4 separate regions of the Homo sapiens genome follow, and all the other regions are linked to region 1. Evidence: fine-mapped expression QTL. A gene starts in region 1. Each other region holds a variant in brackets. All regions are shown on one strand. Distances are from middle to middle.

Region 1 (2,500 bases):
CTTTTCCTTCTTTAAAAAACATATAATGTTATAGTGATATTTTTTCAAACTCTCATACAGAATCAAGACAACAGCACATAAAGTATGCAGAGGGACATATCCCATTCTTACCTCTTAACAGTAATTTAAAAGTTAAGAACACCCATACAGAACATCAGCTAAGCTAGGAAAGGCAAAACTGATTGGGCTTGTTCTGAAAGTTGATCTGTGTCAATCAAAATAATGGTCTTTAGAGTGCTATATGATTAAGTCTAATTTCTTAAATATGAGGAAAAATGAACTTTGCAATTATTTTTAAAAATCTTTTCATCTCTTAGACAGTGTAAAAAGGCAAAAAGCAAAAAACACAAGACTTTCCCAAGATTAGGGGAAGATGATCTCACCGTTAATATTCATCTGCTGAGAGCAGTTATGGGACCCATGTCAGGAATACATGCTTCAAATAAGATGGGACTTGAGAATTGCTGAGAGACTTCAGGAACATTCTTTAACTTCATGGGGCCTCAGTTACCCCACCTTTAAGGGAAATAATAATAGCAATAGTACCTTGGAGGATTTCTGTGATAAAATGAGAAAATGCTTGTGAGAAGTACATAAAATATTGGCTTACTGAAAGATGTTACGAGGCAAGCAAGTATGCCTATTTTCATTCAATGTTTATTATTTCAAAGGCAAAGTTTCCATATAGATTAAGGCCTTCATAACATCTGAATACCTTTTCTAGTTCTTATTGTATGAAGATAAGAAGGATGGTTGGAGGCTTTGTAAGGAATACCTTTCTCTTCTGCTCCCCTCTCACTCCCATAGGCTGGGAGCAGTTGATTTCACTACCTCAGATATGCAAATTGATGCCACCTTCCTGTAGCCACTTTTGCCATAGCTGACCTTTTTGTTGGGTGGTGGGGAGGGGAGCGGGCAGGATTAGGCGAGGGGTAGTAGTTGGGATTTCTTGGTCTTGGAATTCAACCATCCGATGTATTTGTTTCCCTGTGTCTATTCCCTTAAGTCTACAGGCACTGTCTAGTAATTTTATAGTTTTCAGCGGCACCCCAGGGGACAGGACACCTTGGCCTTTTTATAATCACTCTAGAGTCACAAAGCAGAAAGGAAAAAAGTTAACGATCAGCTATGCAAAGGCTTGTGTGGATTGCTTAAGGACAGGCGATTTTCACTTTACCAGAGTTACTAAAGGACTTCAGGAGAAGGATCCCGTCCCTGTAGGAGCGTTTGTGGTTGAAGAAGCAGGAGGACGAGCGCTCAGGTGCGCCTCGGCAGTTTGCCTGGGGTCCGCAAGTCCAGTGCTACTTATTAGCTGCTTGCCGTCCACCGACACTTTAGCGGAGAACTGGAGGAGACCCCAGTGGGCTCCCGGTCCGGCCAGGAGCAGGGCGTTTCAGAGGAGACCGTCTGGGGCTTCCCAACCCAGGCGATCAGGATAGGCAACAGCCAAGAGAGGCGCTCAGTTGCTTTGCACCCTCCTCCCACCTCGGTTCTGTCCACACCCACGGGCGCCCCGCCCCCTCGGCCTTATAAAGGGGACTCGGCACCTCCGCGCGCCTCGCCACCAGAGGTTTCCCAGAGAGGAAGGCGTGGCTCCCTCCCGGGCCAGTGAGCCCTGGCGCCGCCGCGGCCGCGGTCCCAGCAGCGGAGTAGGGCGGCGGCTGCGCCCCGCACCATGGGGGGCAGCCCAGCCCCAGCCGCGGTAAACGCCGACCTCCGCCGCCGCCCGCGCCGCGTCTGCCCCCTCCCGCTGCGGCTCTCTGGACGCCATCCCCTCCTCACCTCGAAGCCAACATGAAGGAGACCCGGGGCTACGGAGGGGATGCCCCCTTCTGCACCCGCCTCAACCACTCCTACACAGGCATGTGGGCGCCCGAGCGTTCCGCCGAGGCGCGGGGCAACCTCACGCGCCCTCCAGGGTCTGGCGAGGATTGCGGATCGGTGTCCGTGGCCTTCCCGATCACCATGCTGCTCACTGGTTTCGTGGGCAACGCACTGGCCATGCTGCTCGTGTCGCGCAGCTACCGGCGCCGGGAGAGCAAGCGCAAGAAGTCCTTCCTGCTGTGCATCGGCTGGCTGGCGCTCACCGACCTGGTCGGGCAGCTTCTCACCACCCCGGTCGTCATCGTCGTGTACCTGTCCAAGCAGCGTTGGGAGCACATCGACCCGTCGGGGCGGCTCTGCACCTTTTTCGGGCTGACCATGACTGTTTTCGGGCTCTCCTCGTTGTTCATCGCCAGCGCCATGGCCGTCGAGCGGGCGCTGGCCATCAGGGCGCCGCACTGGTATGCGAGCCACATGAAGACGCGTGCCACCCGCGCTGTGCTGCTCGGCGTGTGGCTGGCCGTGCTCGCCTTCGCCCTGCTGCCGGTGCTGGGCGTGGGCCAGTACACCGTCCAGTGGCCCGGGACGTGGTGCTTCATCAGCACCGGGCGAGGGGGCAACGGGACTAGCTCTTCGCATAACTGGGGCAACCTTTTCTTCGCCTCTGCCTTTGCCT
Region 2 (2,765 bases), 520 kb after region 1:
ACTTCACCTCCAGTCTGATGCCAGTTATGTCTACATGGAACAACTTTTTCCCCAGCATCCTTTTTAGTCCACATGTGTTTCCCTGTTGTACAGCCCTCTTGGGCTAAGAATGTATTAAAATCAGAAGTTTTTCTTCTACAACAGCTTAGGTATTTCATTCCCTCATGGAAAATAGGTACTCCAGAATGATATACACAGACTTCTTCTAGACTTTCTAGACCCCAATATGTCTTTGAACACCCTCTATTCTTACATGAGGTCCCAGTCTTAATTTCATCATTGTCTTCTTCTTTCTTCTTCATTCCCTGATGACAGTTTATCAAGAGCTTGTTTTAGAGAGGCAGATATTTTTAATTCCAAATTTGTCATTGGTTCATCTGGGCTTGGCATTTTTATTGCTTCTACTGGCTTAGGGGCTTGAATTATGTGTTCCTGAAATTTGGGTTTCAATTCAGATAGTTCCTTCTTCTCAGTAGTCTTGACTTCAGGTTTGACTGGCTCAGGTGGCTTCTCACTATTATGTCTACCTTTGGTACAGCCTACAATGCTTAAGAAATCAGAAAAATCCGTTGTTTTTCTCTTACAGCAAGACCAACCCTTTAATGCATCATAAAAGACTGGAACACCTGGGTGGTATGTGCAAGCATCATCGGAATCGGTCTCAGGATCGAAGCGCTGACCGCAGCCCCAGTTGTAGCACAGCAAGGCCATTTTCTTTTCCCACCGTCACAGGCAGGGCCCAAACACCGGGAACGGCAAGAGGATGCATTAGCCACTCCCATGTCACTAGCGCCAGTCTGACGACTGAGAAGGCTGCCAGCTTCCAGACTACACTTTTTTTTTTTAATAGAGATGATGTTTCACCATGTTGGCCAGGCTGGTATTGAACTCCTGACCTCAGGTGTTCTGCCTGCCTCAGCCTCCCAAAGTGCTGGGATTACAGGTGTGAGCCACCATGCCCGGCCAGTTTTTACACTTTTAAAGCATTCAGAAGAAGGAAAAGAAGGAGGACATAAAGGAGGAGGAGGAAAATGAGGTAAAGTTTATGAGGCCTGCAGAGCCTAAAATTCTATTATCTCGTCCTTTACGGAAACAGTTTATCGATCTAATGATGATAAAAGGCTGGAGAGCGGATATAGGTAATTGGTGTAGGATAGTGAAGGTGCTAACTCAAAGCAAATTGGTTTTGATGGTCTTTATTAACAAGTATAAAGAAAAAATATTCACTAGGTCAATAATTGCATACCAAGTGCCGGACAAAGTGTTTTCTCCAATAACAAAATCTCCTCCAGAAAAATAGCTGTAATTGGAGTTACCAACAGGTTAAGTTTACAGTGATCCAATTTTATTCTCCAAG[C/T]TCTGGCTGTCTTCTGAACAGGCTGAAGATACAAATTAAGAGGGGACATGGTATGAATCATCGTCCCTGCATCTGCCAAGTCCTCAAAGGCTCTGATTTCTCTAATCAAGTCAATGCTGTCATAAAACAATTCAGTGAATATAAGTTAGGTGACCAACTCATCCCCGTTTACCTGGGACTTACTCAGTTTTAGCATCTGAAGAACCCCCTCAGTTGTAGACAAACGAGGGTCGTTGCTCACCCTAATATACAGAGTATAAAGGAGTGACTTAGCTGCTTCCAGAGGAGCTGGAGAACTTCAGGGAAAAAATTATAAGCTCAGGATTTTAAATTCCCCACCTAAAGAGAAAGGACCTGAAGCTGTCTATGACTGCTCAAAATGAAAGTTTTGCCTTATACTGGCATTGGATTACAGGTGGCTGCAGATGATAAGTAACTGCTTTGCCATTGCATGCTATAAGCAAGTGTCCTCCTTACCAATGCAAACACAGTTATTACTGCCTATAAATTTAATCTCATCCAAGAACCCATTCCAGATAATCCAGAACCAATTCACAATAACCATCCTTAAGATTTTGTTCTCATGGAACCATTACAAACCTCAACTCCTAGAACCATCAGGGTTCAATTAGAGAATCAGAACCTCCATGAGTGATATAAAGTGGGGAATTTATTAAGGAATTAGACGTTACACAATTCTAAGAGTTGGTGGTGCCGCAGGATACATTCAAAAGCAGAAAACAAAATTGTACCGCTTTAAGAGTAAACTCATTCATTCCAGCTTAAACACAACAATTTAGTTGGTCACGTTCTGCCTTTCTCCCAGAGATGGCATAGAAGTTCCTGAAGAAGGGTCATGGCAAGGAGCAGTGGTGGGAAATGTGGGGTTGGGGGTAAAGGGGAGATAGCCGATCGTCCCTTCATATCCTGGGACCTACACTCTGCTGCCATCTAGTGAGACTATGATCGCACTCAGTGCTCAGAAGACGGTCCACACAAGCATTCACTGAGTTCCTTCCCTTCCCACACATCTCTGGTCTTACGGTCCACACCTTTTTCCTCTATGTGTCTCTCATCAAGAATATGAGACTTTCGCAGGTCCACCAGGACTCTCTGTCTCTCTCTCTCCTAAAAGCTGTGCCCTTCTCAAGGACATGGGAAAAACTGGCAGCTCTTCCATGCCACCCCTCAGGGCAATCAAAATTCCAACAGACCATTTTCCCTTTGACGCTGTATTTTATGGTCCTTCTTTCTTAGCGGCATAGGATCCTCATGATATCATGAAACACCTCCTTGTGTGGTTTCAGGCAGAAATTGATTACAGGACAGATGCTCATACTTCCTGGGATTCTATCCCCCTCATTCAGAGAGCACACAGGGCTCCTCCTCAGAGACTTTCACACATGTT
Region 3 (2,500 bases), 33 kb after region 1:
ATGCCCGGCTAATTTTTGTGTTTTTAATAGAGACAGGGTTTCACCATGTTGCCCAGGCTGGTCTCGAACTGCTGGGTTCAGGGGATCCATCTGCCTCGACCTCCCAAAGTGCTGGGATTACAGGCATGAGCCACCACACCTGGCCTGTGTACATACAATTTTAAAATTAAATTATATTGTTTAAAAGTAAATTATTGTTAAATAGCAGTAATTCCATTGCCTTCCACAAGTCTGCCTATTTTAAATAATATAACAACAAAACTTTATATATAAAGTATCTTATATTCTGTTTTTTCACTTAATACTTATATATACTATTTGTGAATTATTGTTTTATTAAGCTTTACACCTGATGTTAGAGATGTATGTGTCTGCAATTTCTTGCTGGCATATATAATGCTCCTCTGAACATTTATTTATTGTATAGCTACTATTTGCTTTTATTGGATAAATCATTTGGAAAAATTCCTGTGAAAGAAATTACACAAGAGGATTGCTTGAAGCCAGAAGTTTGAGATCAGCCTAGTTAACATAGTGAGACCCCGTCACTACAAAAAATAAAAATATTAATTGAGTGTGGTGGCATATACCTGTAATCCCAGCATCTCGGGAGGCTGAGGCAGGAGGATCATTTGAGCCCAGGAGTTCAGGACTACAGTGAGCTATGATTGTGCCACTGCACCCAAGCCTTGGTGACGGAGTGAGACACTGTCTCAAAAAACAAAATATGAGTCAAGCCCCAGAGCATGAGTTTGCCTTATAAGCCAAAACTGGAAATTCCCATCCCCTTTGCCAGGGATTCGTTTAAGAATAAAAACTGTGACTAAATAAGACAAAAGGGAAAATGGCTGGATACCAGTGTCACACAGTCTTGTAAGAATTTTCGTGTATTATTTCCTCTCTCTCTTGTCTGTCTGCTTAACCTGCTCTACCTGCTTTTTTGTTATATAATTGTATTTTTGAAATAAAATTGAGTATACATGAGCAGAATTGGCAATACCAGAAATCCTATGACTCAGCTCTCTTTTCCTGTTGACTTATCAACACTGGGACCAGTCATTATCAGCTTAGTGGAAAAAGACACAGAAGATGGGGAATTAAAAGAATCAAATATTTACTTACTTCAAACTAATATAGACAATTACATCTTTTATCTCACAATAGTAGTCAATTTTGCCAACAAGAATAGAAAATACTCAAACCTGATGGTTAAGTATCCTTTTTCCCAAAGCAAATCGATTTCAGATATGTCGATACTTTGTTCAATTGCTTGCAGTCAAGTTCAGTAACCTTGGAGCTGGGTTCCTACGTGTTGATGTTATGTCCACTTTAAATCTTAGAGACCCACATTTTCTTCCCCCATACGTCCAAGTTTTTGAGGGACATGTGGATGCCTGCTAGTATTGTCT[A/G]TCTGTCTATCTACTACAAATATGTGGTTATATCACACACACACACACACAATTGTAGGCCTTCAGAGGCCAGTGGTTTGGAATAATCAGGAACAACTGAGATAGTCCTGAAAGACTTGGAAGTCTCAGAAGTAGAAATGATGAGGATTAAAAGTGTTGCAGGGGTAGAAAAAAGAAAGAATAAAGGCCAAGAGGGAGGAAAGAATAAAACCAATGGACTATAGCTAGAGTTTGGAGTCTGTATAGGCAATTAGTGGGAGACAAAACTGGAAAGAATAGTTTGGACAGTACTGTAGAGGGCTTTGAATACCAGAGTTAAATTTCTGTTCGATGGACAATGGGAAGACATTGATGATTTTCTAGTTGGAGAGGATTTGATCACAGCTGGGATTGGAAGCTGCACCTGTGATGGGCAGATATCTGTAAACACTGTCTTAGTCTGCTTGGGCTGCCATAACAAAGGTGTAAACTTGATGGCTTAAACAGCAGACATTTATTTCTCACCATTCAGGAAGCTGAAGATTCTAAGATCAAGGTGCCCCCAGATTCAGTTTCTGGTGAAGGCCCTTTTCCTGGCTTGTAGACTGCTGTCTTCTTGCTGTGCCCCACATGGCTGAAGGAGAGACCTGTGGGTTCTTCTCCCTCTTCTTATAAGGATAATAATCCCATTATAGGAGCTCCACCCTCATGACCTCATCTAAACCTAATTACCTCCCAAAGGCCTCACTTCCTAATACCATCACATAAAGGGTTGGGGCTCCCACATATAAATTGAAGGGAGGCACAAACATTCAGTCCGTACATGTACCATCTGGGTGTCTGTTATTACCATAATTCAAATGAGAGGAAGATCTGAACAAGAATGAGAGTGAAGCAAGAGCAAAAGGCATTGCAGAGGATGAGGAAAAGAAGAGTTCACAGACTCTGAAATGTTGATCCAGGGTGAGTGTATCAAAGTGCCATCACTGGAATTGTGGTTAAGTGGTTAGGGATGTTTTGGATGCTCAGGGATGTTGAATTCAATTTAAGTTATGTGACCTGAGGGCAGAACATACAGATAAGTGTAAGCCTCAAGAGAGAGAGATTAGGTT
Region 4 (2,765 bases), 480 kb after region 1:
ACTTTGCTCAAATGTCACATGTCTCAGCAAGGCCCCTCTATTTAAAAATTACACCCTCCAGCATACACATTTTCCCTTTCCTGCTTTATTTTTCTCCATAGAATTTATCACATTCTAGGAATATACTATGTATTTTACTTATTTATTTTCTATGTCATTCCACTAAAATGTAAGTTTCCTGAGGGCAGAGCTCTTCGTTCACCATTATAACTTCTGAACCACAAAAAACACCCAGCACATAGTAAGTGCTCAATAAATATCTGTTGAATGAATGAGCAAACAAATGACCCCTCTTCCAGGAGACCTTTAAATACAGACCAGACAAACCACTGTGTAATAGATTCTCTGTTGGCTAAATGATAAACACCCAGAAAAATGAACTGGCACACCTCTTGGCACATTTTAGCTCTTCCATACAAATTCCAATAGACAGCAACACAGATGCTAGTGAACATAGGCTGATATTATCAGACAATTGCTTTATAAGTAGATCTTGGAATGAGAAAAGAGAGATGGTAAGTTAGCCAACTTCAATATATGCAGTGTCAGATCATATCTGACACTGCATATTTTGAACAACAACAAACTATTACCCAGAATTTGACAAAGTCATACTGCTTCAGAATCTGGGCCTTCTCTCTCAAAAGAACTATGTCTGACACTTTTCCAAGCTGTACTTGCTGTAAATTCTTTGGATAACCTAATCATGAGGTTACTGTGTAGAACTATCAATCTTATAGTGCCCTAGAAAAAACAATAAATTAATTTCTCACATGATTACAACTAAGTTTAAGAAAATCTGCTTTGCCTTAGCAATTTCTAAATGCATGTTTTCAAGAACTTAAAGATTGTGTGTAATAAACTGGGTCTTTTGACTTTGCCTAGTCCTACCTATTACAAGTCCTCCTATGTGCTATGTTCTGGTAGTACAGTGGTGAACAAGTCTCCTGGTTACCTGTTTCTTAAAAGAATAATTCCCTCAGATAAGCTTAATCAGGGGTCAAATTCAAATCAAGTAAATAAATTCCAGGCACTCCAAAAACGTTAAGTAAAGAAATAGGAAAGGGGCTATAAGAATTAAGGCAAAATGAGAACCTGCAATCTTCTCATTAAGTCAAATGAAAATTACTTATAGCAAAAGAAATCAAATTAGTATCAAAAGTATTAGGGAATAATATATCTTAAGCCAAAGAAAAAGACAATTAGTACTGATCTCTTTTAACAAGTATAGTATTTAACACAGTCTCCTTCCTTATGGGCCCTTGAAACCATTTCTCAGCCTTCCTTTTCTCTCAAGACCTCTAGAAGTTAAAAGTTGTTGGGTGTATATTACCTATCAAATTATTTTTTAAAAAATTACCTTTTGGTAGTCCCAGCTGCTCAGGAGGCTGAGGCAGGAGAATGGCGTGAACCAAGGAGGGGGAGCTTGCAGTGAGCTGAGATCGCGCCATTGCGCTCCAGCCTGGGAGACAGCGAGACTCCGTCTCAAAAAAAAAAAAATTACCTTTTGGCCAGGCACAGTGGCTCATACCTATAATCTCAGCACTTTGAGGCAGAGACAGGGGAATCTCTTGGAAGCTGACGATGGAGGATGGCTTGATCCCAGGAGGTCAAGGCTGCATTGAGCTGAGATCGCGCCGCTGCACTCCAGCCTGGG[C/A]GACAGAGGGAGACTCTGTCTCAAAAAAAAAACTACCTTAAAAAAAACTCCCTATACTTTGCAGTATGCTTCACATTTTAATGTAGACATGCAGATGACTATCTCTCCCTTTCCATGTAGCCTTCTCCTTTAATTCATCATTAAGTCAATCATACTCAATATACTAGTGCCAAGTATGTTCATATCTTTTTCTCTGTATAGTCATTATTCTATCTAGAGCAAGATCAATTTCTACATCCCTGAATAACTAATAATTTGTTGCCCCTCAAAAATAATTCTTTAAGTATTTGCCAAATATTGTTTAGAAGAAGGCAGAGTCCTGCAGGGGAAATGGCAGACAACAGCATCTCTCCTCATTTTTTGCAAATAAAATGGCTTATCCTTATATGGCAACTATTTATTAATACTGGAACATGTTCCTTGTCAGAAGGTTGGTGACAGTAAGTTTCTCTTACCCCAAGTAGATTATCAAACATTTCTTCAAACCATGTGAGCACTCTCCCTGAGGAGAGTTTTATTAAATACAAATTTATCCATGTTGATGCATTTACTCTAAGGTTTTAGTATGCCATAGTGATTGACACTCTAGAAAGCTGCTTGGGTGGTGCACTCCTTCAAGGTCTAGTGACCTTTACTTCTTACCTGGGCAGCTAATTCCTAACTGGTCTTCTTATATCAGTTCTTGAACCCCTCTGAACCATTGTTTACACAGTGGGCAGAGTGAACTTTACAAAGTGCCTATGTTATTTTCTTGCATGTTTTATGCTCTTGCATAAAACACCATATTCCTTCCAATCTTGGACCTTTTACACATGTTGCTTTTCTCTGGAATATTTCCCCCACCCCACCCTACATTCTTTGCTATGAATCTCTTTCCTGACCTCTCAGACCAAGTGAAATTCCCATAATTTATTTCTCCAGGTACACACTGCTTCTTCTTCAAAGCATTTATCTAAGTTATTATTAAATTATTAATCCTCTCTCTCTACATATATATATATTTCTTCAAAGCATTTATGTAAGTTATTATTAAATTATTAATCCTCTCACGCTCTCTCTCTATATATATGTGTATATATATATATATATTTAATGTCTATACAGTCTC

Direction of the effects. Positions count from the first base shown, and alleles are read on the strand shown. Sizes are in standard deviations (SD) of each study's normalised expression. Not every link is listed here.
In carriers of allele C in region 2, the expression in prefrontal cortex of the gene that starts at base 1,556 in region 1 tends to be lower than with T alone (moderate effect, 0.62 SD a copy in CommonMind).
In carriers of allele A in region 4, the expression in cerebral cortex of the gene that starts at base 1,556 in region 1 tends to be higher than with C alone (moderate effect, 0.68 SD a copy in GTEx).

What was found. PIP is the estimated chance that this variant, and not a neighbour inherited with it, causes the effect.
Region 2: its variant is fine-mapped to the expression of PTGER3 in prefrontal cortex (CommonMind, PIP 0.95).
Region 3: its variant is fine-mapped to the expression of PTGER3 in lung (TOPMed, PIP 0.92).
Region 4: its variant is fine-mapped to the expression of PTGER3 in cerebral cortex (GTEx, PIP 0.96).

Annotation. Positions count from the first base shown.
Region 1 is chr1:71,046,872-71,049,371 of GRCh38, reverse strand. It overlaps PTGER3 (prostaglandin E receptor 3), which reads left to right and starts at 1,556. Exons shown (of 4, transcript NM_198719.2): 1 at 1,556-2,500. The coding sequence starts at 1,795. It overlaps ZRANB2-AS1 (ZRANB2 antisense RNA 1), which reads right to left. Exons shown (of 3, transcript NR_038420.1): 1 at 1,783-2,500; 2 at 384-558. RefSeq lists an enhancer at 1,559-2,142.
Region 2 is chr1:70,528,472-70,531,236 of GRCh38, reverse strand. It overlaps the pseudogene CHORDC1P5. Among named protein-coding and RNA genes, the nearest start is that of CTH, 120 kb to the right of the region's middle. RefSeq lists an enhancer at 2,052-2,553. The variant C/T (reference allele first, on the strand shown) is at 1,358.
Region 3 is chr1:71,014,166-71,016,665 of GRCh38, reverse strand. The region is part of intron 1 of PTGER3 (prostaglandin E receptor 3); the gene reads left to right. Among named protein-coding and RNA genes, the nearest start is that of ZRANB2-AS1, 31 kb to the left of the region's middle. The variant A/G (reference allele first, on the strand shown) is at 1,410.
Region 4 is chr1:70,569,180-70,571,944 of GRCh38, reverse strand. No RefSeq gene overlaps it. Among named protein-coding and RNA genes, the nearest start is that of LINC01788, 140 kb to the left of the region's middle. The variant C/A (reference allele first, on the strand shown) is at 1,658.